Linked DNA regions of Homo sapiens. The protein of the gene in region 6 purifies or fractionates together with the protein of the main gene of each other region. This does not show direct contact. Each region holds a gene or a part of one and is shown on either strand. Other genes may lie near its edges.

What was found.
Region 1: the proteins of ECD (region 6) and PACC1 purify together in Homo sapiens (co-immunoprecipitation; one large-scale study listed by IntAct). This does not show direct contact.
Region 2: the proteins of ECD (region 6) and CD226 purify together in Homo sapiens (co-immunoprecipitation; one large-scale study listed by IntAct). This does not show direct contact.
Region 3: the proteins of ECD (region 6) and SIGLECL1 purify together in Homo sapiens (co-immunoprecipitation; one large-scale study listed by IntAct). This does not show direct contact.
Region 4: the proteins of ECD (region 6) and PIP5K1A purify together in Homo sapiens (co-immunoprecipitation; one large-scale study listed by IntAct). This does not show direct contact.
Region 5: the proteins of ECD (region 6) and HDAC11 purify together in Homo sapiens (co-immunoprecipitation; one large-scale study listed by IntAct). This does not show direct contact.
Region 7: the proteins of ECD (region 6) and ZNHIT2 purify together in Homo sapiens (affinity purification with mass spectrometry; 4 studies listed by BioGRID and IntAct, with this or other methods). This does not show direct contact.

The regions. Positions count from the first base shown.
Region 1 is NC_000001.11:212,387,387-212,390,886, forward strand, and holds part of PACC1 (proton-activated chloride channel), read right to left. Parts: intron 1-3,500. UniProt on the Homo sapiens protein: Chloride channel gated by pH that facilitates the entry of chloride ions into cells upon exposure to extracellular acidic pH. Involved in acidosis-induced cell death by mediating chloride influx and subsequent cell swelling.
Region 2 is NC_000018.10:69,945,074-69,949,147, forward strand, and holds the start of CD226 (CD226 antigen isoform a precursor), read right to left. Parts: upstream 2,801-4,074; 5' UTR 2,334-2,800; coding exon 2,288-2,333; intron 1,997-2,287; coding exon 1,661-1,996; intron 1-1,660.
Region 3 is NC_000019.10:51,264,580-51,268,079, reverse strand, and holds part of SIGLECL1 (SIGLEC family-like protein 1), read right to left. Parts: intron 2,713-3,500; coding exon 2,431-2,712; intron 2,304-2,430; coding exon 2,198-2,303; intron 708-2,197; coding exon 551-707; intron 1-550.
Region 4 is NC_000001.11:151,229,552-151,233,051, reverse strand, and holds part of PIP5K1A (phosphatidylinositol 4-phosphate 5-kinase type-1 alpha), read right to left. Parts: intron 1,382-3,500; coding exon 1,251-1,381; intron 805-1,250; coding exon 687-804; intron 502-686; coding exon 349-501; intron 1-348. UniProt on the Homo sapiens protein: Catalyzes the phosphorylation of phosphatidylinositol 4-phosphate (PtdIns(4)P/PI4P) to form phosphatidylinositol 4,5-bisphosphate (PtdIns(4,5)P2/PIP2), a lipid second messenger that regulates several cellular processes such as signal transduction, vesicle trafficking, actin cytoskeleton dynamics, cell adhesion, and cell motility.
Region 5 is NC_000003.12:13,479,111-13,483,105, reverse strand, and holds the start of HDAC11 (histone deacetylase 11), read right to left. Parts: upstream 2,801-3,995; 5' UTR 2,759-2,800; coding exon 2,757-2,758; exon of another isoform or gene 2,660-2,756; intron 1,861-2,659; coding exon 1,712-1,860; intron 1-1,711. UniProt on the Homo sapiens protein: Responsible for the deacetylation of lysine residues on the N-terminal part of the core histones (H2A, H2B, H3 and H4).
Region 6 is NC_000010.11:73,161,509-73,165,008, forward strand, and holds part of ECD (protein ecdysoneless homolog), read right to left. Parts: intron 2,443-3,500; 5' UTR 2,430-2,442; coding exon 2,225-2,429; intron 1-2,224. UniProt on the Homo sapiens protein: Regulator of p53/TP53 stability and function. Inhibits MDM2-mediated degradation of p53/TP53 possibly by cooperating in part with TXNIP. May be involved transcriptional regulation. In vitro has intrinsic transactivation activity enhanced by EP300.
Region 7 is NC_000011.10:65,115,903-65,119,152, forward strand, and holds ZNHIT2 (zinc finger HIT domain-containing protein 2), read right to left. Parts: upstream 1,800-3,250; 5' UTR 1,752-1,799; coding exon 540-1,751; 3' UTR 501-539; downstream 1-500. Other genes in the region: delta(14)-sterol reductase TM7SF2, read left to right, coding at 1-151. UniProt on the Homo sapiens protein: May act as a bridging factor mediating the interaction between the R2TP/Prefoldin-like (R2TP/PFDL) complex and U5 small nuclear ribonucleoprotein (U5 snRNP).

The DNA.
Region 1 (3,500 bases), on a different chromosome or scaffold from region 6:
TAAAAGAAAAAGCAAAAAACAAACAAAAAGAACAGAAAAAAGGAGTTTACTCTCTAGAGGGATAGGCAGTTACAATCCAACAAGTGAGCTGGCCCCAACCTACCTCTCTGGCCTTATCCCTCACTGCTCCACTTCCCCAGTTCTCCCAGCTCTAGCTCCACCTCTACTCATCGACTTTCTGTTCTTCTGGAGTGCCCTTCTCAACCCGGGATTCCCTCACACTTACCATTCCCTCTGCTTGATTTTCTTTTCTTCCACAGCTGATGCTTCACTCATCCTAAGCCCCGAAAGCTTTTTGCTTGGCATCTGGCTTCCAACAGTGACAGAGTAGCTTGGTCACGCCATCCTTCCATGGAAGCATTTTAATTTAGAAAGACATTTTCTTGGCCAGGCGCAGTGGCTCAAGCCTGTAATCCCAGCACTTTGGGAGGCCGAGGCAGGAGGATCACCTGAGGTCGGGAGTTCGAGACCAGCCTGACCAACATGGTGAAACCCCTGTCTCTACTAAAAATACAAAATTAGCTGGGCGTGGTGGCGCATGCCTGTAATCCCAGCTACTCAAGAGGCTGAGGCAGGAGAATTGCTTGAACCCAGGAGGCGGAGGTTGCAGTGAGCCGAGATTACTCCATTGCACTCCAGCCTGGGCAACAAGAGCGAAACTCCATCTCAAAAAAAAAAAAAAAAGAAAAAAGAAAGAAAGACATTTTCTTGAGGAAGCCTCTCCTGACCCCTAACCTTTATTTGGGCACCTCTTCCTCAGTGTTCCCAGGGAGCCCTGTACGTCCCCTACTTCATCACTCTGCAATGTCATGTCTATACATCTTTTATCCTCCTAGGCTGTGAGTTCCATGAGGGCAGGGATGGGGCCAGTCTTATCCCTAACTGAATCCTTAGCCCTTCATGCTATGCCTGGAACATTCTGCATTTACATGGTGACTGATTGAACACGTCCTGATGCTATTGGTACAACACAACTCTGTCTCCCCTACCTCCCTCACAAAATCCTGAGGCTAGAAGCTAGATTAATCTCTGTTATGGACGAAACTGTATCCCCCACCCTCAAATTCAGGTTGAAGCCCTAACCCTCAATGTGAGTATATTTAGAGACAGGGACTTCAAGGATATAATTAAGGTTAAATGTGGCCATAAGGATGAGGCCTGATCCAATAGGACCAGAATCCTTATAAGAGGAGGAGACACTAGGAGCACATGCACACAGGAAAAAAGGCCATGTGAGGACACAATGAGAAGGCAGCCATCTGCAAGCCAAGGAGAAAGGCCTCACCAGAATTCAATCCTGCTGGCACCTTGATATTGGATTCTCGCTTCCAGAACTGTGAGAAATAAATTTCTGTTGTTTATGCCACTCAACTGTGGCATTTTGTTACAGCAGTCTGAGCTGACTAAGATACTCCCACAGGGCTCCCTGTGCCCTCTCTGCTCCTCAGCTGAAAATGGAGCTCCCTGAGAAGAAGTCCTATTTCCTCCACAGCCCAGCTGAGCACAAGGCTGAGAACAAGGGAAGCATCTGAACGTAAGCCCCAAAAGGTATCTGCTTGGCATCTGGCTTCCAACAGTGACAGAGTAGCAGTGTCACATCACCCTTCCACAGAAAACAATTATAAACTTTGGACAACATATTTTAAATTATTTGAAGGCACTGGGAGAATGATCAAAAGCAGGTAGAAATTGAAAGAGAGGCTACCCTTGAAAGAGAAGAACTGTACTTGGTGAGATTTATACATCTGTAGCTTTTTGCCTAAGAATACATGCCAATCCCTATAAGGCATGGTTCAGAGTGACAGGGACAAAGTTCAGGGCTGGAAGAGCAGCCAGAAAGTTAAGACAAAACCATGAAAGGGAGGGAGCCACACAGGGGGTGAAACTCCCAAATCTGCAACTAAATATATGTTCAGATCCTTGGCTGGAGAACCCAGGGGGGGCCAGCAAAAAGTAACAACTGGAAATTGAAAGAACTGCATGGAGATTTCAACTACGGCTAATGCAGGGGAGATAGGAGTTTAGAGCTTAAATCTTGCCATATTAACAATATGCCAAGAAAAAAAAATACCCTTCTGAAGATCATAACAGAATCCAGAATCTCTATATCATTCATAATGTCCAGTGTTCAATCAAAAATCACTAGACATGCTAAGAAACAAGAAAATGTGACCTGTACTCAAGAAAAAAGCAATCTATAGAAACCAACACCAAGATGACCCAGTGTTGCAATTTAGCAGAGAGAAAATTTACAGCACTTAAAGGAAAATATCTGAATAAGGAATAAAGACAAGATCAATAGAGAAACAGAAACTAATAACAATGGCCAAATATATAGAATTTCAGTTTTGCAGGATGAAAAAGCATTGTGGAGATGGATGGTGGTGATGGTTGCACAGCAATATGAAAGTGCTTAATATCACTGAACTCTACATTTTAATGAGTAAGATGATGAGTTTTACATTACGTGTATCTAACCACTGTAAAAATGTTTCATAAAATTTAAAAAAACAGATGGAAATTCCAGATCTGACAAGAAATAAATGAAATAAAAAGTTCACTGTATAGGCTTAATAGCAAAAGATGGCAGAGAAAGAGTTTGTGAACTCAAAGTTAAATCAACAGAAACTATCCAATTTGAAGAAAATATTGAAGGAAAAAAAAAACCAAATGGAGCCCGGAAAATTGTTACAGTATCTAGCAGTGTAGTGACATGTAACTGGAGACAGAAAATGGGTCACAAAAAATATCTGAGGCCGGGGGTGTGGTGGTTCACCCCTGTAATCCCAGCACTTTGGGAGGCTGAGGCAGGCGGATCACAAGGTCAAGAGATCGAAACCATCCTGGCCAATGTGGTGAAACCCCGTCTCTACTAAAAATACAAAAATGAGCTGGGCGTGGTGGTGCATGCCTATAATCCCAGCTACTCAGGAGGCTGAGGCAGGAGAATCGCTTGAACCCGGGAGGCGGAGGTTGCAGTGAGTTGAGATCACGCCATTGCACTCCAGCCTAGGAAACAAGAGCAAAACTCCATCTCAAAAAGAAAAAAAAAAAAAAAAAAGACTATTGATATTGGGTTCTAAGATGGCTGAATAGGAACAGCTCCAGTCTACAGCTCCCAGCGAGAGAGATGCAGAAGATGGGTGATTTCTGCATTTCCAACTGAGGTACTGGGTTCGTATCACTGGGGCTTGTCATACAGTGGGTGCAGGACAGTGGGTGCAGCGCACCGAGTGTGAGCTGAAGCAGGGTGAGGCATCGCCTCACCCGGGAAGCAGAAAGGGTCAGGGAATTCCCTTTCATAGCCAAGCAAAGCTGTGACAGATGGCACCTGGAAAATCGGGCCACTCCCACCCTAATACCGTGCTTTTCCAATGGTCTTAGCAAATGGCACACCAGGAGATTATATCCCGCGCCTGGCTCAGAGGGTCCCACACCCACGGAGCCTCGCTCATTGCTAGCACAGCAGTCTGAGATCCAACTGCAAGGCGGCAGTGAGG
Region 2 (4,074 bases), on a different chromosome or scaffold from region 6:
CTTCTCTGTACAGCCATGAGTATAATTTGAGAGACACCACACAAGAAACACACAGTTCCAAAAATATTCCCTGCTTTAGATTGTCACTAATATCTGAAAATTTCATTATTAGTCCTTTTGGATCACAAGCATAGGAAATAATAAGATGTATCATTCTCTGACTACCATGGACCAAGTTCTTTAAATATATCGTCCCTCAGCCATTCAACAAGTAGAATGGCACTACCAACCCCATTTCCTCTTCAGGAACCTGAGATTCAGAGGGATCGAGCAACTAACACCAGGTTGATGGAAAGTGATGACTATAAACCCAAGTGTTTCCAATATACTACAACCAGTTCATGTAGTCATCACTAGAAAGACAAAACCACAATCTCTGGTAGATAAAGCAAAAAACACTCCAAGGGATCATTGGGTTCTTTCTGACACCACAGCTCACAATTTATGAAGAAAGTGTCCTCTCTAGCTAAACCTGGATGAGGTGAAAGATAGAGCCAGGGCCAAGCTTGGTGGTTCATGCCAGTAATCCTGGCACTCTGGGAGGCCGAGGCAGTTGGATCACTTGAACTCAGGAGTCCAAGACCAGCCTGGGCAACATGTTGAAACCTCATCTCTACAAAAAATACAACAATCAGCCTGGCATGGTGTATTAGTCCGTTTTCACCCTGCTGATGAAGATATTCCCAAGACTGGGCAATTTACAAAAGAAAGAGGTTTAATTGGACTTACAGCACCACATGTCTGGGGAAGCCTCACAATCAAGGTGGAAGGCAAGGAGAAGTCACGTCTTACATGGATGGCAGCAGGCAAACAGAGAGAGCTAGTGCAGGGGAACTCCTCTTTTTTAAACCATCAGATCTCATGAGACTTATGCACTATCATGAGGACAGCATGGGAAAGACTTGCCCGCACGATTCAATTACCTCCCACCAGGTCCCTCCCACAACACATGGGAATTCAAACCATATCACGTGGCGGTGCACACCTGTAGTCCCAGCTACTTGCGGGGCTGAGGTAGGAGAATCGCTTGAGCCCAGGAGCTGGAGGTTGCAGTGAGCCAAGATCATGCTACTGTACTCCAGCCTGGTGACAGAGCAAGACTCCATCAAAAAAAAAAAAAAAAAAAAAAAAAAAAGAAGGAAGAAGAAAGAAAGACAGGAAAGAAAGGAAAGAAAAGAAAGAAAGAGAGAGAGAGAAAGAAAGAAAGAGAAAAAGAAAGAAAGAAAACAAACTTAGATTTGGTACTGTAGGAAGAACCTTGAACACACAGGGGTTGATGTGGGTGCTGGAGTGTCCAGCAGAAGGGAATGGTGCTATGTCACTGTGATAAAACCCTGAAAGGATCCTGAACCCATGTGTTGCCAACATCAGTTTAATCAAGGCTCAGGTTATCATTAAGACAACAAAAAACCTGTGCTTTCTTCTACTACATTCAAATTTGAAAGGCACTTCTACTCGGACACAACAGCACAGTCAGAAAAATGAAACAGACTCCCAAGATTGCTCCTTCAAAGCAGTAACATCAAAGCATCTAGAAATGGAATTGGAGAATGCCACAGAAATACGAGAAGACATTCTATAGCTTCTACTTGGGCTTTATAGAAATAAATGTTGTAAGTGGATAAAAAGGGATTTAAAAAAAAAAAAAACTTGCCCTTACCTGACTGAACCACCTGTATCACCTTCTGCCAAGTTCCCTGTGGGTAAGTGTAAAGAGAGCAGGAATAGTAGCCAACATCATCTTCAGAGGCATTCCGAAAGAAAAGAGTCATGTTATTGGAAGCCATCGTTGAATTCAAAAAGTAAACCCTCTCAGCATAGGGCTTCCTTATGACCATGCCATGAGTAGGGCTGAAAATGGCTATGGAATCCTGCTGGGTCCCGATCTTGAACCACTCCACCTGTGTTAAGATGCCCATTGATGGATACACACATTCTAGAGACATGTTCTCGGCAAAGGGAACTGATGTATGCCAAAGCACCTCTTCACATAGAGCTGAAATATACAACATCACATTAATTGTTAGCCTTGATGATGGAAACACCAAATCAATATCTTAAGCTTTTGAAGACCTAGTGCATTGAGATCACAGTAAAGGCTGACAGTTTCTGCCTTTGTCTAAAAAGGCGTCCTGCTGATAATTGGAAAATGTAACTTTTAGTTTTTCTGAACAAGTGAGAAATTATCCTAGCCAACTAAAGAGCACTGTAAATTCTGAATATGCCACACTGTACAAACAAAAACAGGAGCAAAACTTTTAAATGAAAATATAAAGATCATCTTTACCTCTGTATACATGAAGAAGAGCCAAAAGTAAAGTAGGATAATCCATCTCTGGAAACTGTTTGAAAGGCTGGTTCTATTAAAAAAAAAAATTGCTTTTTATAATGTGACATGCAGATCCCCAGCACAATGCAGTTTCCTTCCTCTCAGATGTTATCAGTCGTGTCTTCTTTTTCTGAAGTATGAACACAGGAAAAAGGCCTTAGCTTAAAAGACAGGTTTGCTCCTTTATGAGGATGGGCAGATTTGAGTTTCTTCTCTCTCGGGGAACCAGTCGGCTTATTTTCGGGCTTTCATTTTCTACAAGGAGTCATTCATTCAACAAACATGTGCTGCATGCATTCTCTGTGCCTAACTCAGCTGTAGGCAATGAGGATACAATAATACAAAAAAAAAAAAATATTGCCATGATAGAACTTACATTCTATGTGGAGGAGGCAGAAACTAAAATAAAGATGTAAAAATATAAATAATAAGTGAAAGGTGGTGCATGCATGGAGCAGAGAAGTCCTCACTGAGAGCATAAGATGAGGCAGAGGCTGAAGTGGGCGGAGGGAGCCTACGCCCAGCGCTGACAGCCCATCCTGTGGCCTTCCTTTCACCTCTTCCTCCTTGCTGATCTCAGACATTTGCTTTGATGAGGACCAAAAAACAGATCAAAAGCCCATCAGATACAAAAGTATGCTGGCCCAGGGCATATGCAGATCTACCATTATGAGAGATTTAACTTCTGATTTTGAAATAATTATAGAGTCACAGTAAGTCACAAAGAGAGTACAGACAGGTCCCTGTCCCCAGGTTCTGTCAGGGGTCATATCTTACATAATTATAGTACAATATCAAAACAGGATTCATTTTTCAGGTTCATCATTGCTCTCTTCTTTCTCTTATAAAATACAAGTTCCAATTCTTAAGAACTTGTTAGGTACAAGTTCCAATTCTTAAGAACTTGTTAGGAACATATCAGCATGTTAGTATAAAAAGTATACCCCTACAAAAAGAGGAATTGTATAAATGCATTTGACCCTGGTAAGACTGTCAAAATAGAAGATGAGTAAAAATTGGGAAAAGTAGGAGCAGAAACCACTGAAGACAATTTTATCTAATGCCGACCCTGAACTTTGTTTGTGACTCAGTCTCAAAGTGTATCAGCAAGTGTCGACTACTCAGCATGAATATCTAATGTGGGAACTTTCTCAGGGAACATAAAATCAACAATGCAATGATAATCAGAACAAAATTGTAATGTGTACATATAATCAAGCATGGTGTCACCTTGTGTTTATATGGCATTATATTTTCTAAAAGTTTTCACATCTATGATATTATTTGTGCCTCTAGTTGTTTTGTGATGTAGTCAAAAGAGGCATCTGTTATCTCTGTTTTGTAAATAAGTCAACCCAACAATTCCTCCAAATTGTACTGAGTTATGCTGGGTCCTCTGCTTAGTCCCTTGGAAATACAATCATAAAGAGGACACATCTCTGCTCTCAGGTTATGCATAATATAGTGGGTCATATTAATTTTAAAAGCAATTTATTGTAGCAAAACATGATCATCTCTATACAAGTCATTTGCTAAGTTTTATGAAAGCCAGAGAGAACAAATCATTCTAATAGATTGTGGAAAAGGTTTTATAGAAAAAGTGGGGGGAAAACAGAGGCGTGACAATGCGGGTGTTTCAGGAAATGGTGTGACTACAGTCTAGTGGGTGGGGAAGTGACCGAAAATGAGACTGAGTCTGGACTGAAAAGTGACCTGAGTGACACACATAAAGGAACTGAAACGTA
Region 3 (3,500 bases), on a different chromosome or scaffold from region 6:
AGGGTGTTAGGAGGGCAGCAGGATAATTCTGATTCTGGAGAATCATAAACGGTAAATAACAGTGAGGCATAGCAACCTCGGACACTGTATCTTCCAAGCCCTGCTGAAGATGTGGGGTACAGGGTGAATGAAGGAGTAACCTGGGCTTGGCCTAATCTCTAACCACTTCAGGCTGACTTGGCCTGTGGCATCTACACCAAGCTGACTGCTGCCGGCCATACACTCAGAGGCCAAATCCTTGGTTTCCACTCTGATGCTACAACTGCTATTAGGATTTTCCCCAACTGCCTTTTCAGTGGGGATTCAATGTAATGGTGTGTGCGTGTAAATTGATTTTAATTGTTCTTTAAATTGTTTCTCTTAACTTTCATCCTTCTCCTCTCTGGGCCTTAGCTTCCTATTTATAAAATGACCTGAAAGCACACTCTAGCATTAGGTATCCTGCAAGACTGAGGATGATAACACCTTCAAAACACTGTGTGCTCCTTTCCCTGTGGGTCTTATTATCAGTATTCCGATAGACTAGATTCCAGACACAATAGGTACATACCAATATCCGGCTCTCAGAAAATGTGGCGACTACGGGTTTTCCTGGTTCCTCAGGCTTCAGAGACATCTCAAGTTCTTGGCTTGCTCTGACTTTAGAGCTCTTTTTTGCTCTGATCGCTGCAGCTTTCTTCGCCTGCTTCTTTCTGATATGTTTCACTCTAAGGAAATAAGCCTTGGATTGGTTCTGGCTCTCCATCTCCCTGAATCCCCAAATGGGCTCTATCTTGACCAGAACTTCTGATTTAGAGCCTCAACAACAGTACCAGCTTGCTGTATGACCTAGGGCAAGCCACACATCCTCTCTGGGAATTAGTTTCACACTCTGAATAAGGGGGATACCCTGCTTATTAGGCTGTGGGGCTCAGATGAGGTCAGCTAAGAAAGGGCCTTGCAACTGGCAGAGAGATTGTTACTGGTCTTCAAGTCCTGTTGATTATACTTTGAAAATAGCTCCTCAGTTTGCCCTGACACCTCACTCCTCATCTTTGTCTCCCCATAGCCAGCCATGCCCAAGTCCCACCTCTCTGGCTGCCCCTCATCACTTGCCCCAGGTCAGGCCTTCTATTTCCTGCTTAGTCCCCTGCACCAGCTTCCTGCCTGGCCTCTGACCTTCTGGCTCTCACTCTCTCTAATCTGTGTCCCACCCCAAGCTCAAGCTTTCCTTCACAGCTTAGCACTCTTCCATGGCTCCGAAATGAGGATTCAGTCCAAGCTGTCTGGACAGGCTCCCCTGCCCGTCTCTCTGGCCTGACTTCCTGCAACTCACCCCTTCCCACTCCATGCTTCTAGCTAATACATGCAGCTAAGTTTTAACACCCTGTGAACCAACACCAAGGATGTCTTTCAACCTCATTTTTAGCCATTACCTGGTACTCTCAATGCACCTGACATTATACAAAGACACTGGAAATGCCTCAAACATGCCTCTGGGCGTCTGCATACAAAGGTTAGATATCCCTTATCTGAAATGCCTGGGGCCAGAAGTGTTTCAGATTTCAATTTTTTTTTTTTTTTTTAGATTTTGGAATATTTGTTTATACATAATGACATATCTTGGGGATAGGAGCCAAGTATAAAAACAAAATTCATTTATGTTTCATATATACCTTATACACATGGCCTGAAGGTAATTTTATATAATATTTAAAATTATTTTGTGCATGAAATAAAGTTTGTGTGCATTGAACTATCACATGAGGTCAGGTGTGGAATTTTCTACTTGTGGCATTATGTCGGTGCCTCGAGAACTTTTGGACTTTGGAGCATTTCGGATTTTGGATTTTTGGATTAGATACTCAACCTGTACTATTAATACTTTCCACCAAGCTAACGAGTACTGAACCCTTGCAGGCCCACCACAGACAGCACCCCGGGGACTCGCTGCTGCCTTTTCCAGGGCTGCCAAGTCCCTTCTTGGTCTTCTCCTTTATAAAATGTGTTCAAAGTGTCTGTTTTATGACACAGTTTTACGGTTCTGTATAGTCCTCATGGCCCTGGATTGTGGTGACCATGTTTGGTACATCTTTCCCTCTTTAGACCCTAAGCTCCTTGAGGGGAGGGGTCCTGTCTTTGCTCTCTCTGTGCCAGGGCTGCAGCCAGGGCCTGCCCGGTAGTAGGCTTGCGGGTGAATATTAACCCTAGTACTCACATGAGAGGGAGGAGGCAGAGGAAGAGCAGCGCAATTACAATTCCCGCATAGATAGCACCCTGGATCAGCCCTTTCACGAAGGCCTGGGCAGCCAAAGAACTCTTTCCTGGAAGCAGAGAGCATGTGAGAAGTTTGGCATCGGAGCCAAAACTCTGCTCCATTCTCTAGCCCCAGTGACTGTCCCCATCCCGCTTATTGTCCTCACCCAGTCACCGAGCCCCCTCCACCCTCACTTGACATCAGTAGGATGCTCAAAGCATGGGTTCCGTTTTGGTTCTTCCCCTCACAGAGAAGTCTCATGCCCATTTCTGGCTCTTCAGTTAGGCTGATGGTGCTGTTAGCCCAGGGGCCAAGCATGGTGGAAGTCACTTGGAGGCTGCCATCCATGCCATCCACACCCACGGGGACTCCTCCCATCCACCACTGCACAGAGGGTGTGGGAATCCCATGGAAGGAACAGCTGCACTGCAGTGTCTTCTCCAAGGAGCAAGAGGAGTTGAGCAGCTTAGCAGGTACTGTGGGGAGGAAGGGTCAGGAGTCAGCAAGGCATCCTGGCTTCCCTCTTCCAGTTTCTCCAGCATGCAGCCTTCTCTTTACTTGCTATTCACAAGGAGCTTCAGAAGGACTTTCTGGAAGCCCACAGGATTCAGGCCTCCCAGACCAGTTCCCCTCTATCTTCTGTCCTCATCTGGCCTGAACCTGATCGCTAGACCTTCTTGAGGGGTGGCAAGTAAATTTCCTGAGGCTCTACATTGTCTGTGATCCCTCACCTACCCTGCAAGGCTAGAAGTCCAAGCCAGACCTCCTACTCTGCTTCTCTTCTTCCCACCTGCAATGTTCCTCTTAGGCTCTATGACCAATTCTCCCTCCATCACTTCCTGTCTGGGTGCTGCTGGGCAAGTCACTCCCCTTATCATTGCTGTTTCCTAGCCTGGAAAATCGGGATATTTGCTGAACCTATCTCATATTATCATCGTTATAAGAATGAATGCCCCAAGATTTGCAGTGCACCCAGCTCAGTGCGTAGTGAAGTATTACCCATTCAATAAACAGAACACCTTTCTTAATTTCCTTCTTCCCGGTCTCAAGTGGTCTTTGGTGGAACATTCACTGGAAGCCAAATGTACTATGGCATCTTCTGTGTAAGAATGCTGGAAATTGCCTCGCTCTATTTAGAACAGGTAGGACATGGTGGCCATTTGATGAATATCATGGATTAGGAGGGAACAGTCACATTCATCAAGGTCTCTAATAATGAGGAATCTGTCTTCAGTGTTGACACACACTTTTTCGTTGAAGTTTT
Region 4 (3,500 bases), on a different chromosome or scaffold from region 6:
CTCGGCTCACTGCAAACTTCGCCTCCCAGATTCACGCCATTCTCCTGTCTCAGCCTCCTGAGTAGCTGGGACTACAGGCGCCCGCTACCACGCCTGGCTAATTTTTTGTATTTTTAGTAAAGACGAGGTTTCACCATGTTGGCCAGGATGGTCTTGATCTCCTGATCTTGTGATCCTCTTGCCTCGGCCTCCCAAAGTCCTGGGATTACAGGCATGAGCCACCGTGCCTGGCCTGAACTACACTCTTAAGATAGAAGTGCTGACACTGTTTTACCCTGCTGAAGACAGCCTCCCCAGCCTTGCCCAGAAGTGAGCAGCACAGGTGGACAGTGCTTCTCTCTCCCTTACCATGTAGTATCCTGGAAGCAGCTTCTGCAGAAATTCCGCCTCTTTATGTTGGACTGTCTTAATAATGAACTCATCGTCGCTGGACACATAGAATAGGGAACCACTAGCTCCAGAGCTACAGAGTTCAATCAGCGGCTCACTGCAGAGGGAATACTGGGGCAAACAGAGAAGAACTAAGAGATTTAGACACATCAGGGCCTTGCCCAACACAAAAATCAACTACAGATGCAATTCTTTTCTAAATAAAAACCAGAGCGAGACTGTGGAGAAAAGGGGCCTTCCTTTGGGAATATCCCTCTGATACTGGAGTCACAGTGTCCTGATATCCAGATGCTTACCAAGTAATCATCGGGCCGGATACCAAATAGCTCCCGGAAGTAGCGGAAGGCAACAGGTGCATAGGTCTTGAAACGAAAGTCATTGTAGTGATGAGCAGGGGTCAGGTTGCTCCCTTCACTGTGGGGTTAAACAGAGGTAGCCATAACTTGCCAGTCCCTATCATCCAGAGAATCTACCTTGCGAAGACACTCAGAGTCACCTCATGGTGGGGGGAGTGGGGGAATACATTCCTCCTAAGATAATCACAGCCCTTCTTAGATGAGTTAGTGAGACAATGGCACAGCATGGACAGCAAGACATAAGAAGAAGAAGAAATCACACTGCCTCCTATCCAATGCATTAGGTTGTTTTTTACGGGTCAATCCATAGGACAGAGGCTAATGGAAGCATCTAGAGGACAGTATCTGCTCTCCGAACTCTCTAGTCCCACATCGCCCTGATTGTAACCAGGTTAAGAAATGGACACATGTCTAAATTGTCCGACCTGAACCCCTAAAACTGCCCTGGGCTGATTTGAAAAGGCCACATTTCCAGGACATGCTCCTGAACATTAAACTCTGTACCTGGGAAAGAAGATACTCTCAACCACGTAGAAATCTTGCATGAGGACATCACGCTCTGGTTTGGTACTCAGGCTCCCCACAGTGTGGGTAATGCCTAACTGGATGGCACCTTTCAAGGCTGATGAGGTTGTCTGAGAAACAAGAGAAATGAGAAGAAAATTCCTAGTATAAGTAGGATCATAACAATAAAAATTCAGAAAGGGGAAGCTAGAAGGAACACTTTAAAACAAACATCCTTTAGTCTGAGCAATAGTTCAGATAAAACTGGGACAATCCAGTTTCCCCATCCCTATGCTGTACTCTGCAATTAAGCTTAGTAAAGATTGGAAGGACAGTGAGGATACAGAGTAGCAAAGCTGGGACTCTCTGAGCCAGCCTCAGCTAGGCAAGGTGCTCCCTCCTGTTGGCCTGCCTAAACAAGAGTTCCATATTTGTATTTGGAAGATACATTGTATTGACACAACGTTCTTAGTTCTCACTCCTAAGGTTTCTGCCCCCAGAGTGTATCTGGAGCCCTCTAAACATTTCCTTCATCTGATATCGAATGTAACTAAAATTAACCAATATTCCTTTTTTTTTTTTTTTTTTTTGAGACTAAGTCTCACTCTGTCACCCAGGCTGGAATGGAGTACAGCAGCATGATCTCGGCTCACTGCAAACTTTGCCTCCCCGGTTCAAGCGATTCTCATGCCTCAGCCTCCCGAGTAGCTGAGATTACAGGCATGCACCACGACACCTTGCTTATTCTTTATATTTTTAGTACAGATGGGGTTTCACTATGTTGGTCAGGCTGGTCTCAAGCTCCTAACCTCAGAACTCCCAAAGCTCTGGGATTACGGGCATGAGCCACCATGCCCAGCCCTAAAATTAACCAATATTCTGATCTGACTGCCTGGCGGCAGAAACTTCAGTCCTCTAAGGAAGGGCCTGACTAGTGTGTCTCAAGGCCAACAGGGTGGGGTGGGCGCGGGCGGAGGCTCACGCCTCTAATCCAAGCACTTTGGGAGACTGAGGTGGGCAGACCACTTTAGGCCAAGAGTTCGAGACCAGCCTGGCCAATGTGGTGAAACCGTCTCTACTAAAAACACAAAAATTAGCTGGATGAGGTGGTGTGCACCTGTAGTCCCAGCTACTCAGAAGGCTGAGACAGGAGAATTGCTTGAAGCTGGGAGGCGGAGGCTGCAGTGAGCCAAGATCACACCACTGCATTCCAGCCTGGGTAACACAGCCAGACTGTCTCAAAAAAAAGGGCAACAGTGTGGTAAAAGAGCTCCTAACTGAAGAAGAAAGCATGAAAGACTCAAATTATTTCTGAGAGCAGTATTCAGACTTAGAATTATCAAACTTGGTCAAAACACAAATACAAGAGCCCCACTCTTACAATCCAGGATTCCAAGCCCGTGGGAAAGTATCGCATCATCTAGATCTTTGCTGTCTGATAACAGTAGCCACTAGGTACACATGGCTATTTAAATTTAAGTTAACTCAAATTTAAAACTTCATTTTCTCAGTCTTACTACTTACAGTTCAAGTGTGGCTACTAGCTACCATATTGGATAGCACAGATACAGCACATTTCAATCACTGCAGAAACTTTGATTAGATAGCTTTGCTCCATTTGCCTCATCCCCAACCTCGGCCAGGCATTACTTATATTTCTACTTGGTCCTCAATGGGCAATAAATTACAACTAGTTTTTTGTTTTTTTTTTCTTGAGACGGAGTCTCGCTCTGTCGCCCAGGCTGGAGTGCAGTGGCGTGATCTTGGCTCACTGCAAGCTCCGCCTCCCTGGTTGACACCATTCTCCTGCCTCAGCCTCCTGAGTAGCTGGGACTACAGGCGCAAGCCACCACACCCGACTAATTTTTTGTATTTTTTTTTTAGTAGAGATGGGGTTTCACCGTGTTAGCCAGGATGATCTCGATCTCCTGACCTCGTTATCCACCTGCCTCGGCCTCCCAAAGTGCTGGGATTACAGGCATGAGCCACCATGCCCAGCCTACAACTAGTTTTTTTCATGTACAAATAGGTCAAAGGAAAATAAATTATTAGTTTCTTTTTTTTTTTAAGTACCTGCCTCCCCAGTTATAATAGAAACTCATCTTTTTATCTTAATGTTCAACATATAAAAAGAGCTAAATGGCCGGGTGCTGTGGCTCATGCCTGTAATCCCAGCACTTTGGGAGGCCGAGACAGGCAGATTACCTGAGGTCAGGAGTTCAAGACCAGCCTGACCAACATGGAGAAACC
Region 5 (3,995 bases), on a different chromosome or scaffold from region 6:
CCACCTTCCCCCCGCCCTTTTTTTTTTTTTAATTCATTTAAAGAGACAGGGTCTTGGCCAGGTGTGGTGGTTCACGCCTGTAATCCCAGCACTTTGGGAGGTTGAGGCAGGTGGATTGCTTGAGCCCAGGAGTTCAAGACCAGCCTAGACAACATAGTGAGACCGCATCTCTACAAAATATCAAAAACATGAGGTGGGAGGATCACTTAAGCCAGGGAGGTTGAGGTGGCAATGAGCCTTGATTCCGCCACTGCACTCTAGCCTGGGTGATGGGAGTGAGACCCTGTCTCAATAAATAAATAAACAAATAAATAAATGCAAGACAAGGTCTTGCTCTGTAGCCCAGGCTGGAGTGCAGTGGCACAACCATAGCTCACTGCACCCTCGAACTTCTGGGCTCAAGTGATCCTCCTGCCTCAGCATTTCAAGTAGCTAGGACTATAGGTGCATACCACCACCCCCAGCTAAGTTTTTTATTTTTATTTTGTAGAGACAGGATCTTGCTATGTTGCCCAAGCTGGTCTCAAACTCCCGGCCTCAAGTGTTCTCCTAGCCTTGGCCTCCCAGAGTGCTGGGATTACAGGCACGAGCCACTGCGCCCGGCCTCCCTCCACCTTCTGATGATATTACAGGAGGCTCAGTGTGGCATGGCCTCGCAACACCTGCCTGTGCTTTGCTCATCTTCCGTTCAAACCACTAATCAGTCTCACAGCCTGCAGGCAATAGTAACCAGCCTGGATTGAATTATACTGTTGTTTTCATTGCATTTACTTTTTTACCATGACCTATTTATGGCAAGTGAAACTGCCTTTTCCCATTTTGATGACATAATGTTTCCTTTTAAAACAAGTTTAAGTGAATTTCCCACCTAAATCAGGCCCCTTGATTACAAACCACAGTTAAAACGATATGCTCTTCGAAGCATCATTTTGCTCAAGGGGATGAGCCCTAAAGGTAGGGCGCCTGGAGCTCTGAGTTCCAAACCCAACTCCGCCTCTTGTAACTGTGTTACTTCAGCCACTAATGGGAGCTGTGTCCTTCCCTGGAAAGAGGTCACAAGCAGGCAGCCAGTGTGCCCAGTTCGGTCTACAGGTGGGCTTTTACAATCTTATAATGAGTGCCATATTAAGAAATCAGGGCCGGGTGTGGTGGCTCACGCCTGTAATTCCAGCTACTTGGGAGGCTGAGGCAGAAAAATTGTTTGAACCTGAAAGGCGGAGGTTACAGTGAGCTCCTGAGCCTCTGCTGCGATTGTGGTGCCTACCCCGAGGGCTGCTGTGAGGACTGGACTGGAATTGGGTGCACATGTTTCCTAATCATTCTAGGACACAATTTCCCCCATCTGTAATCAAGAGAGGTGCGGTGGAGGTGCTCTACCTCCTGACTCTCTGAACCTTAGGAAATGGACTCCTCCAAGCTTCACCTTCCCTGTGCCCATCAGTAATCAGCTACCTTTCCACTAGGCCTCTTGGGCAGAGGCAGGACTTAGGCCCACAGGATGGGGAGCCAGGGAGAGTCTGAGTCAGGGACATCATATCGTGATTAGGAGTCTGTGTTGGAAAAATCATTTTGGGCGGAAGCATGGGTGGAAGGCCATCCGAGGGCTGAAACTGAAGATGGGAGAGAGCCTGAGGCTTATGTTGGGGATGAGGACGGAGAGGACAGGTGGGTTGGAGGAAGCAGATGAGAGTCCAAGGGGGACCTTCCATACCTTTTAGGAAATTGATCACTTTGCCCCATTTTCCGGCATCAAAGGGATGCAGCTTCTCCAGGCCCATGAAGGTGATGTTGTAGCGCGGCGAGTACACGATTGGCCAGCGTGTCTCTGGCACATGCTGGTACAGCTGGGTTGTGTGTAGCCTACCGTGTGGAAAAAGACAGACGCACAGCTGGGGCAGCCTCGGCAGAAAGCAGCTCCCTCCCGAGCCCGCCTGGACTGACCCACCAGCCATTGCCCAGCACCACTAGCCCCTCAGCCGCAGACAAGGGCCCCTCAACAACAGCTGCTTAAACTGGCTGCCTTTCCCGGAACCCAATTCCAATCCAGTCCTCACAGCAGCCCTGGGGGTAGGCACCACAATCGCACCAGAGGCTCAGAGAGCAGACCAGGTGTGCCCAAGGTCACAGTGCAGGTCTGTGGAGAAGCAGGCGTGCACTCAGGTGTGTCTGGCTGCAAGGCCTCCGCGCATCACCTCTGCACCGTAATAAATGCCCCCACAGCTGTGTGGCACAAGGCTTCGGCTGCAAAATGTGTGGCTGTTGTGAGGACTCAGAGAATGCAACTGAGGAGCTGAGCACAGTAAGCACTCAGAAACCCAAGTCGGGACCCAACCTGAGCCAGGGCGGGGGGCGGGGATCCCCTGACCCCGCTGCGCTGCTAACCCTTCCCATCACACCCTGGCAGTCGTCACCCAGAGACAGAAATCCGCCCCAGTGGCTGCCTCCGTGGGGGCGTCCGCGTAGCCAGGGGGCTGGGCAGCGCAGACGTCAGACCCGCGCACATCGCCCGACCGCTCCGGGTCCGGGCCCAGGCCCGCGGCCGGCGCGCGTCCCTCGGGCCACCGAGCAGGGGCGCGGGGCTGGCCTGGCGCGCCGGGAGGGCCTGGAAACACCCGTCCCGAGCGTCCCTCACCCCTCACCAGCAAATCTGGGCCCTTACCTGGCGCGCCCGCCCGGCCGTCCCCGCCCTCGCCCTAGCGCGCCCGCCCACCGGGACCCCTGGGAGCCCACCCCCGCCCTCGCCCCGCGGCACTCACATCCCGGGGCCGGCCCTCCCAAAGCTGGCCGCAGCTCCGCGACCGGGCGGGGCGGGGCGGGGCGCGGGTGGGGCCAGCCCAGGACACGCCCCCGGGCTTAGCCGCGTCCTCTGGGGGCAGAGCTCTGGCCGATTTGGCCCGCCCCGCCAGTGTTGCGACACAGAGAGCCTGCCCGCAGGAAGGCCACCCCCAACGCCCATCAAGCCCGAAGTCCCGCCTCCGCAGGCAAATACCCGGTGGAATCCCGCCTGGTTCGGAAGCTCCGCCCCCTGGCGGGAGGGCCAAGCGGGTTTCACCCCGGCCTCGCGGAAGGGGCGCGACCACCGTATGTCCTGTTCCTGCGCTTCCCAAGCTGGGTAGAAACGGCGAGAGGCTGGGGGTTAGAAACGACAGGTTCCCGGCGGGCTGTGCCGGGGCTTCGCTGTGTGACCTTGGGCTGGCGTCTGGGCTCTCTGGGCCCTTGTTTCCGCGAGTTAAACGTAGGGGCGGGGGAGTTTCTCTGGCCCTGCCGCCTGTGACCTAAGGAGCCCCGTGACCTCTCCGACCCGAGCCCACCCCCGGCCCAGTCTGCGAGCAGCTCCGGGACAAGCACTCCCGGCGAAGACATGTAGGCTCTCAGAGCCTGCGTTTCCCTCTGTAGAGCAGGCCTAGTTACTGTCTTCAGGGTGCACGCGTCTCCGTCCCCGACCCGCACCCTCACCGCCGGGGTAAGCTGAGCCAGGCCCAAGCGACAGCTGGGGTTGTCCGTGGGGCTGCAACCCAGGAGGAGGCCCCAACAATAGAGCCCCAGAGGACGGAGACAATGGGCCTCTCTGTCGGCCCAGCCGTCCCCGCCATCCAAACAGAAGCAGCTGACGGAGGACTGCCGGGCTGGGATCCCTGGGCTCCGCGGGGGCGGCTGTGTGCCAGGGCGGGGCACAAGGGAAGCGCACAGACGTTTGAAGAGGGGCCCCCGTGTGCCTGCCATGATTGCATGATGGCATCTGAGCCTCACAACCTAATCCTGAGAAAGGTGCCATAATCACCCCAACTTTATCTTGAGGGAACTGAGGTTCGGGCCTGGATTAAACCCAAACTCGGCCACCCGCCAGCATAGTGGCTTTGGGCAGGTTGCTTCAGCCTTCTGGTCCTTCATGTCTGCATCTGAAAATGAAGTACTGGGCCGGGTGCGGTGGCTCACGCCTGTAATCCCAGCACTTTGGGAGGCCGAGGCGGGTGAATCACCTGAGGTCAGGAGTT
Region 6 (3,500 bases):
ATACAAAAATCTGAACAGATCTATAACTAGTAAGGAGATTGAATCAATAATCCAAAAGCTCCTAACAAAGAAAAGCTGGCTTCACCGGGGAATTCTTCCAAACATTTAAAGAATTTGACACCAATCCTCCTCAAAATCTTCCAAAAAAATAAAAGGGAGGGAATTCCCAAATTCCTTCTGAGGCCAGCATTACCCTAATACCAAAGCCAGACAAAGACAATATGAGAAAGCTGTAGATCAATATCCCTGATGAGTATCAATGCAGAAATCCTTAACAAAATATCAGCAATCTGAATTCAACAACACATTAAATAGATTATTCACCACGACCAAGCGAGATTTATTCCTGGGATGCAAGGATGGTTCAACACACGAAAATCAATGTACAGTTAATATCCCACATTAACAGAATGAAGGTCAAACAAGTGCATTACAGAGTGTCTCAAGAGCTGCCATGGCAAACAATAGGTAGAAGAACAGCCCAACCAACTCTTCTTCTCCCCACCCCAGATCTCAAGTTTCTTCAACTAGAGAACTCCAATTAAAGTAACTATTTTTGTCTATATTAGACTTTGATTTAAATTTCATCTTGAAGCAATGGGAACTACTGAAGGATATTAAGCAGGAGAGTGACACAATCAAATTTGTGTTTTACAAACATAACCAGCAACAGTGTTAGGAACTAGAAAGACAGGAACCAGAGAGGTAAGTTAGGAGGCTGTTGTTGTTTTCCAGATGTAGAGATAAAGAGGGTCTACACTGAAGCCAAATAGATGTAGAGAAGGGGTCATATTTTAGAAGCATTCAGGATTTAGCATCTGACTGAACATGGTGAAGTGAGGAACTGATTATGATTTTGAATTACTGACTAGCTTGGATAACTGGGTGGATGGCAATGCCATTAAACAAGATAAGAAAACAGTAAAAATGGTTTTCTAGAGGATGGATAAAGGGTTGGTTTTAGATGTGCTACACCAATGTGACAGTGTTCTTGCCAATAAATATCATATGTATTTCAATGAATAAGAGTTCAATAAAATTAACAGTAAGATATGTAGCAATTGTTGCCAAAAGATAACAGATACGCACTAAACTGAGAGTATCACAGTGATGTATACTTGTGATGTATACATGGGGGGTATATCTTGTGATGGTATCACAAGATGCCAGGCTCCTGATCCCAAATAAGACCTCACATAAGTCACTGTGTAAGGAGAGACTTGGTCACCTACCCATGATTTATTTTCATAAAACTATAAGAAATGATAGAACTGTAATGTGACCAGTTCCCCACCAGACTACTTAAGGGTATATGTCTGCTGCTTAAACTTCAAAGGCCAGCTGGCAAGCCAAAGCCATCATGCCTAGCAGAGGAGCAGGTCCTGAGAACCCAAACATTGCAGGGCATAGCTGGGAACATACCAAGGAAAACAGTGTCATTGCATATACGCAGTAGGCAAAGAGCCAAAAAATTAGCTTACTAGCAACTTAAATATGGGAGGTGGGGTGGATTTCTAGAGCTGTCCTGATGCTGCCCAGGAGTGTCTTGTCTGTAAGTCCTAATAAACTCATCTACTTGCCAAGATAGACCTGTCCGAGTCATTCTTTGGTCTCTCCGCTCCCTCCTAGTTTAATCCTGGGTTTTTCTCATAACAGGACAGAGTGCCATATTTTGCCAGAGGTCAGATCTCAAGCACCAACAACACAGGGAAGCAATGAAGAAACCTCAAAATGCTTGTAAGTGGCAAATATTAGTCATAAAGCCCAATTATTTATCTTTATAAGCTGGGCAGAGCCACTCAGATCCTCACCAAAATGGCTATATGAAACAAGGCAGCCTACCAAACACATCACCAAAATAAGGAATCCTGAGTAACAGCAAAAGGAACCATGATTAAAGCCAGATGCCTGAAACTATTTAGTATAGATACTTAGATACATTATGGCATAGTGTAGTAACTAAAGTTCAAAAGAATAGCCATGAGTTTAATAATGTTTAGTATATGCTAATTCCTAAGGCAAATTTAGAAAGTTTTCATTAATATGATTTTTTTTAAAAAAAAGCTTTAAGGCTAACTGAATATAGACAAGTATTACTCATCTAAAAAGTTTAGTGTATTAATCTCTTCCTGGCAACACTGAATGAAGCGTGGACTATTACACATCACTGTTGTCAGGATAACATTAAAAGTCACACTAATCCAAACAAGTAAAAGAGCCTTACCTTTCCCAGGTTTATATTTAAGATTGAAAGGCTGATTCTGCCAGATGTAGGGGACCAGCATAGGTGCAAACCGAGTGATTATTCTCTCAATGTACTTCTGAAGAATCTCTTTATGTTTATCTGAGTCCCTTGACTCATCTGGTATCAGGAACAGGCAGTACTCCACTGTGTCTTCCATCGTAGCAAGCTTCATGGTTTCTTCCATTCTTCTTTGAAAACTATGTTTAAAGTTCCAAAATATAAACCACATAGAACAATGCAGAAGTAACATCTGAACTCTTTTAGATGGTTCTATGAACACTGTTTTCTAAAATTTAGTTAGGCCGGGCACAGTGGTTCATGCATGTAATCCTATCACTTTGGGAGGCCGAGACAGGCAGATCACTGGAGGTCAGGAGTTTGAGACCAGCCTGGCCAACATGGTGAAACCCCGTCTCTACTAAAAATACAAAATACTAAAAATACAAAAATTAGCTGGGTGTGGTGGCATGCACCTGTGATCCTAGCTACTTGGGAGGCTAAAGCAGGAGAATCACTTGAACCTAGGAGGCAGAGGTTGCAATGAGCCGAGATCATGCCACTGCACTCCAGCTTGGGTGACAGAGCAAGACTCCAACTAAAAAAAAAAATAAATAAAAATAAAAAATAAAAAAATAAAATTTAGTCACATACCATCACCATGGTTTTGGCCTTAACCATACACCACCTACAGTAATATTTATTTAATTTTTTTAAACTTTATTTATTTATTTGAGATGGAGTTTCACTCTTGTTGCCCAGGCTGGAGTGCAGCGGCATGATCACAGCTCATTGCAACCTCCACCTCTTGGGCTCAAGCCATCCTCCCACCTCAGCCTCCCAAGTAGCTGGGACCACAGGTGCATGCCACCATGCCCAGCTAACTTTTTTTGTATTTTTAGTAGAGGCAAGGTTTTGCCATATTGCCCAGGCTGGCCTAGAACTTCTGAGCTCAAGCAGTTCTTCCACCTTGGTCTCCCAAAGTGCTGGGGTTATAGGCATCTGGCCTAATATTATTTTTAATGACCCTTTACACTTAAAACTTTATCTTTAAAATTACGTTAAAAGGAAACCTTGATATAATACAGTGAATAGAAATCTAGTATCACATTCCCCAATTAGTAAGTATGTAAGAATAAAATCTTTACTTTTTATATTTTTCCTATTTTGGAAGTGAAGAATGAAATTTTTAATGTTTGCCCTTGTACTAGCAGTGGTATGTGTAATATATTTCGAGAAACACTGCACTAACACCTAC
Region 7 (3,250 bases), on a different chromosome or scaffold from region 6:
CCTGCTGCCCTACTTCTACCTCCTCTACTTCACCGCGCTGCTGGTGCACCGTGAGGCCCGGGATGAGCGGCAGTGCCTGCAGAAGTACGGCCTGGCCTGGCAGGAGTACTGCCGGCGTGTGCCTTACCGCATCATGCCCTACATCTACTGAAGCGGCTCCACCACCCCAGGTGGGGGCATGTGCCCACTCATCCACCAGCACACCCAGGACCAGGAGCCTCGACACACTTGGGACTCAAGGGCTTGCACCCCACCCAGCCCTGAGGATGAACAACCTCAGAGAAGAGGTGGTTTAGAGCAAGGAAAAAAATGAAACCAGTGACCAAAATCGGAGATGCTCTTCCTCCTTTGGATAAACACTGGGAACCCTTGGTGCACTTCTCTCCCCTAGGACTGGCTGGGTCAGCACTGATCAGGGAGAAGCTGAGCAGTGGCTTGTGGGCCCAGGAATCTGGGGTCTGGTGGGACAATAGCTATCCCTCAGAAACAAGCAACAGGGCTGACCAGTCACAGCTTTATTAATGACCAGGGTAACCCGTTCAGCTAGGGAGCTCCTCAATGAGAGTTCTTGGGGCAGGTGGCACGGGGCCTCCCCAAAGCCGCTCCAGCTCCCCAGTGAGGGCGGCCACCTCCTCGGCTACCACAGCATGGGCTTGGTGAGCCCTGGCGCAGTCTAGGGCCAGGGGTGTGAGGGCCGCCTCATTTTCGTTGGTCCAGGCCAGGAGGAACTGGCACTTTTTCCGGGCCCGGTAAAGATGATCTCGCTCTTCTCTAGCCACGGCCTGTTTCCGGGCACGGCCCAGGGTCTGTGCCAGGTCCCCCAGTGCTGCCAGCGTGTAGCCTTTCTGGTTGGTCGGGCCCTCGCCCAGCAGGATGCGGGCGACCTCGTGCATAGCCCCTCGTGTGCCCAGGGGCCCCGGCGGGTGCTCGCCTGCTTCCAGCACGTGGGCTGCCGCCTGCAGGGCTTCTTCCGCAGAGGCGAAGACTTGCTGGGCACCCAGGGCTCCGGAAACGCCGAGCAGTGTGGCACAGAAGTCAGAGAGCAGCGCGTCGTCACCGCCGTGATACAGGGCGAGAGTATGCGCGTAGGCGAACAGCACATTGGGCAGCTGGAAGCGCACGAGCGGCGAGACTGGGCCGCGGCTCAGGCTGACTATCGCGGGGATGCGGGTGGGTACGACGGGCGTGCAGGCCCCCGGGACATCTCCAAGAACCCGCTCGGCGGCCGCGGGCTCCGCGGCGGAGGCATCTTTCACAGAATCCGGCGGGGTCCTCGCAGGGGCGAGCTCCAGCTCCGCGGCGTCACTACCCGGGGCATTATCCAGCTCCTCCAGAAGCTGCGGTCCGGCTCCGCGGTTCCACCACCACGGCCGCCATGGAGGCAGCAGCCGCCCGGCCTCACCGCGGCTCAGCAGCCGCTCGAAGGCAGCTTTTTCGCCCGGCGCCAGCCGCTCCCAGAGTCCCGATAGGCCGCCGGGCGCCGGGCCGGAGCTGAGGCCTGCTTCCCCAGGCTCGTCCTCGGTCTCGCGTTGCTGACGCAGCCGGCGTAGGGCGCTTGCTAGGCGGCTGGGAGGAGCGCTGCAACCGCGGAGCTCTCCCAGCACCTGGTCACGGTAGAAGTTTTCTGCGCAGGTGCCATGCGTCCGGTAGCAGCGCAGCGAGCAGTAGGGCGCATTACAGCGAGGGCAGGTGTAACGCGCTGGCTGGACCTCCCCCGCCGGGCAGAAGCCACAGGGCCCGGCCGGCTCCATGGCAACTGGCACCGCGATCTACCTGCGAACGCACGCCGGTGGTAGTTCGAAACTTCCGGGGCTTCTTCGATTACTTCCGGTTCGCAGCGCGGCCGACGGCGCGCTGTGTTTTCGCAAAGCTTCCGAGGATTCTCGGCAATTTCCGCCCACGCCCGAAAGCCAAGCCCCACCCCTTTCCCTAGTAGGGCGAGAGCAGGCCCAGAAGCCGGGCGTCAGGTACGAGCCCCGCCCTATGCGATGACGCAAGGAGCGAAAAAATGGGTCTGGCGAGCGCTTCGCCGGTGCCACGTCTCCCCCTAGTGGTCACACCAAAACGTGGCCCGATCATCTAAAGAGAAAACCCTCTTTTTAGCACTACAATGTGCTGTGGCATAAATCCATCTTTACTAGGCACCTACTCTGGGCCACTAATTGTGCCAAGCCTACGGGAGGCGATGCATCCCTGCGCTGGACACAGACAAATAAAATGCACTAGGGGACACAGACAAATAAAAGGACAGTTAGGGCCAGGTACGGTGGGTCACGCCGGTAATCCCAGCATTTTGGGAGGCCGAGGCGGGCAGATGACCTGAGGTCAGGAGTTTGAGACCAGCCTGACCAACATGGAGAAACCCCGTCTCTACTAAGAATACAAAATTAGCCGGGCGTGGGGGACGGGTGCTTGTAGTCCCAGCTACTCCTGAGGCTGAGGCAGGGGAATCGCTTGAACCCGGGAGGTGGAGGCTGCAGTTAGCCGAGATCGCGCCACCGCTCTCCAGCCTGCGAGCCTGGGCCACAGAGAGAAACTCCACCTCAAAAAGATAAATAGAAAGCAGCATTTAAGAAATATCTGAGCTCCTATGATTTTTTTCCTCCAAAACTGCCTCTTCTTTTCATTAAGTATCTTCTCATTAAATACCACTATTCATCCATCTTATTAAGTGCAGGCCCCATTCTAGGTGCCAAGAACACAATGCACATCAAAGGGAGCCGGGGGTCCCTGTTCTAATAGAGCTCACTCTTGTGGTGGAGTGGGGGGTGTGATGAACCAAACTGTGAGTGTTCTTTGCATCCCTGCTACTACTGGTGGTCTAAGCTTCCTGACCCCTCATGTGGATGACAACACATTAAGTGTTTTTCCTAACTTTCTTGCCAGCCCTCCAGAAAAACCTGCCAGAGAAATTAGATCACAAGTCAGATGAGATCCATCTGTTACTCAAAACCCTTCTGCGACCCTCCATTGCACTTGGACTCAAACCCAAACTCCTCTCTATGGCTGACAAGGCCTTGCAGGATCTGCCCGCCCCCAGCCCTAGACATCACCTCTTCCCCATCTTCACACAGTCCTCTAGGCTTGAAATATTCCCCTACCTGATCACTTGACTGGTTCATCTCAGGTCTCACTCACGTCATTTAAACAGGACCTCTCGGCTGGGCACAGCGGCTGACACCTGTAATCTCAGCACTTTGGGAGGCCAAGGTGGGCGGATCACTTGAGCCCAGTTCAAGACCAGCCTGGG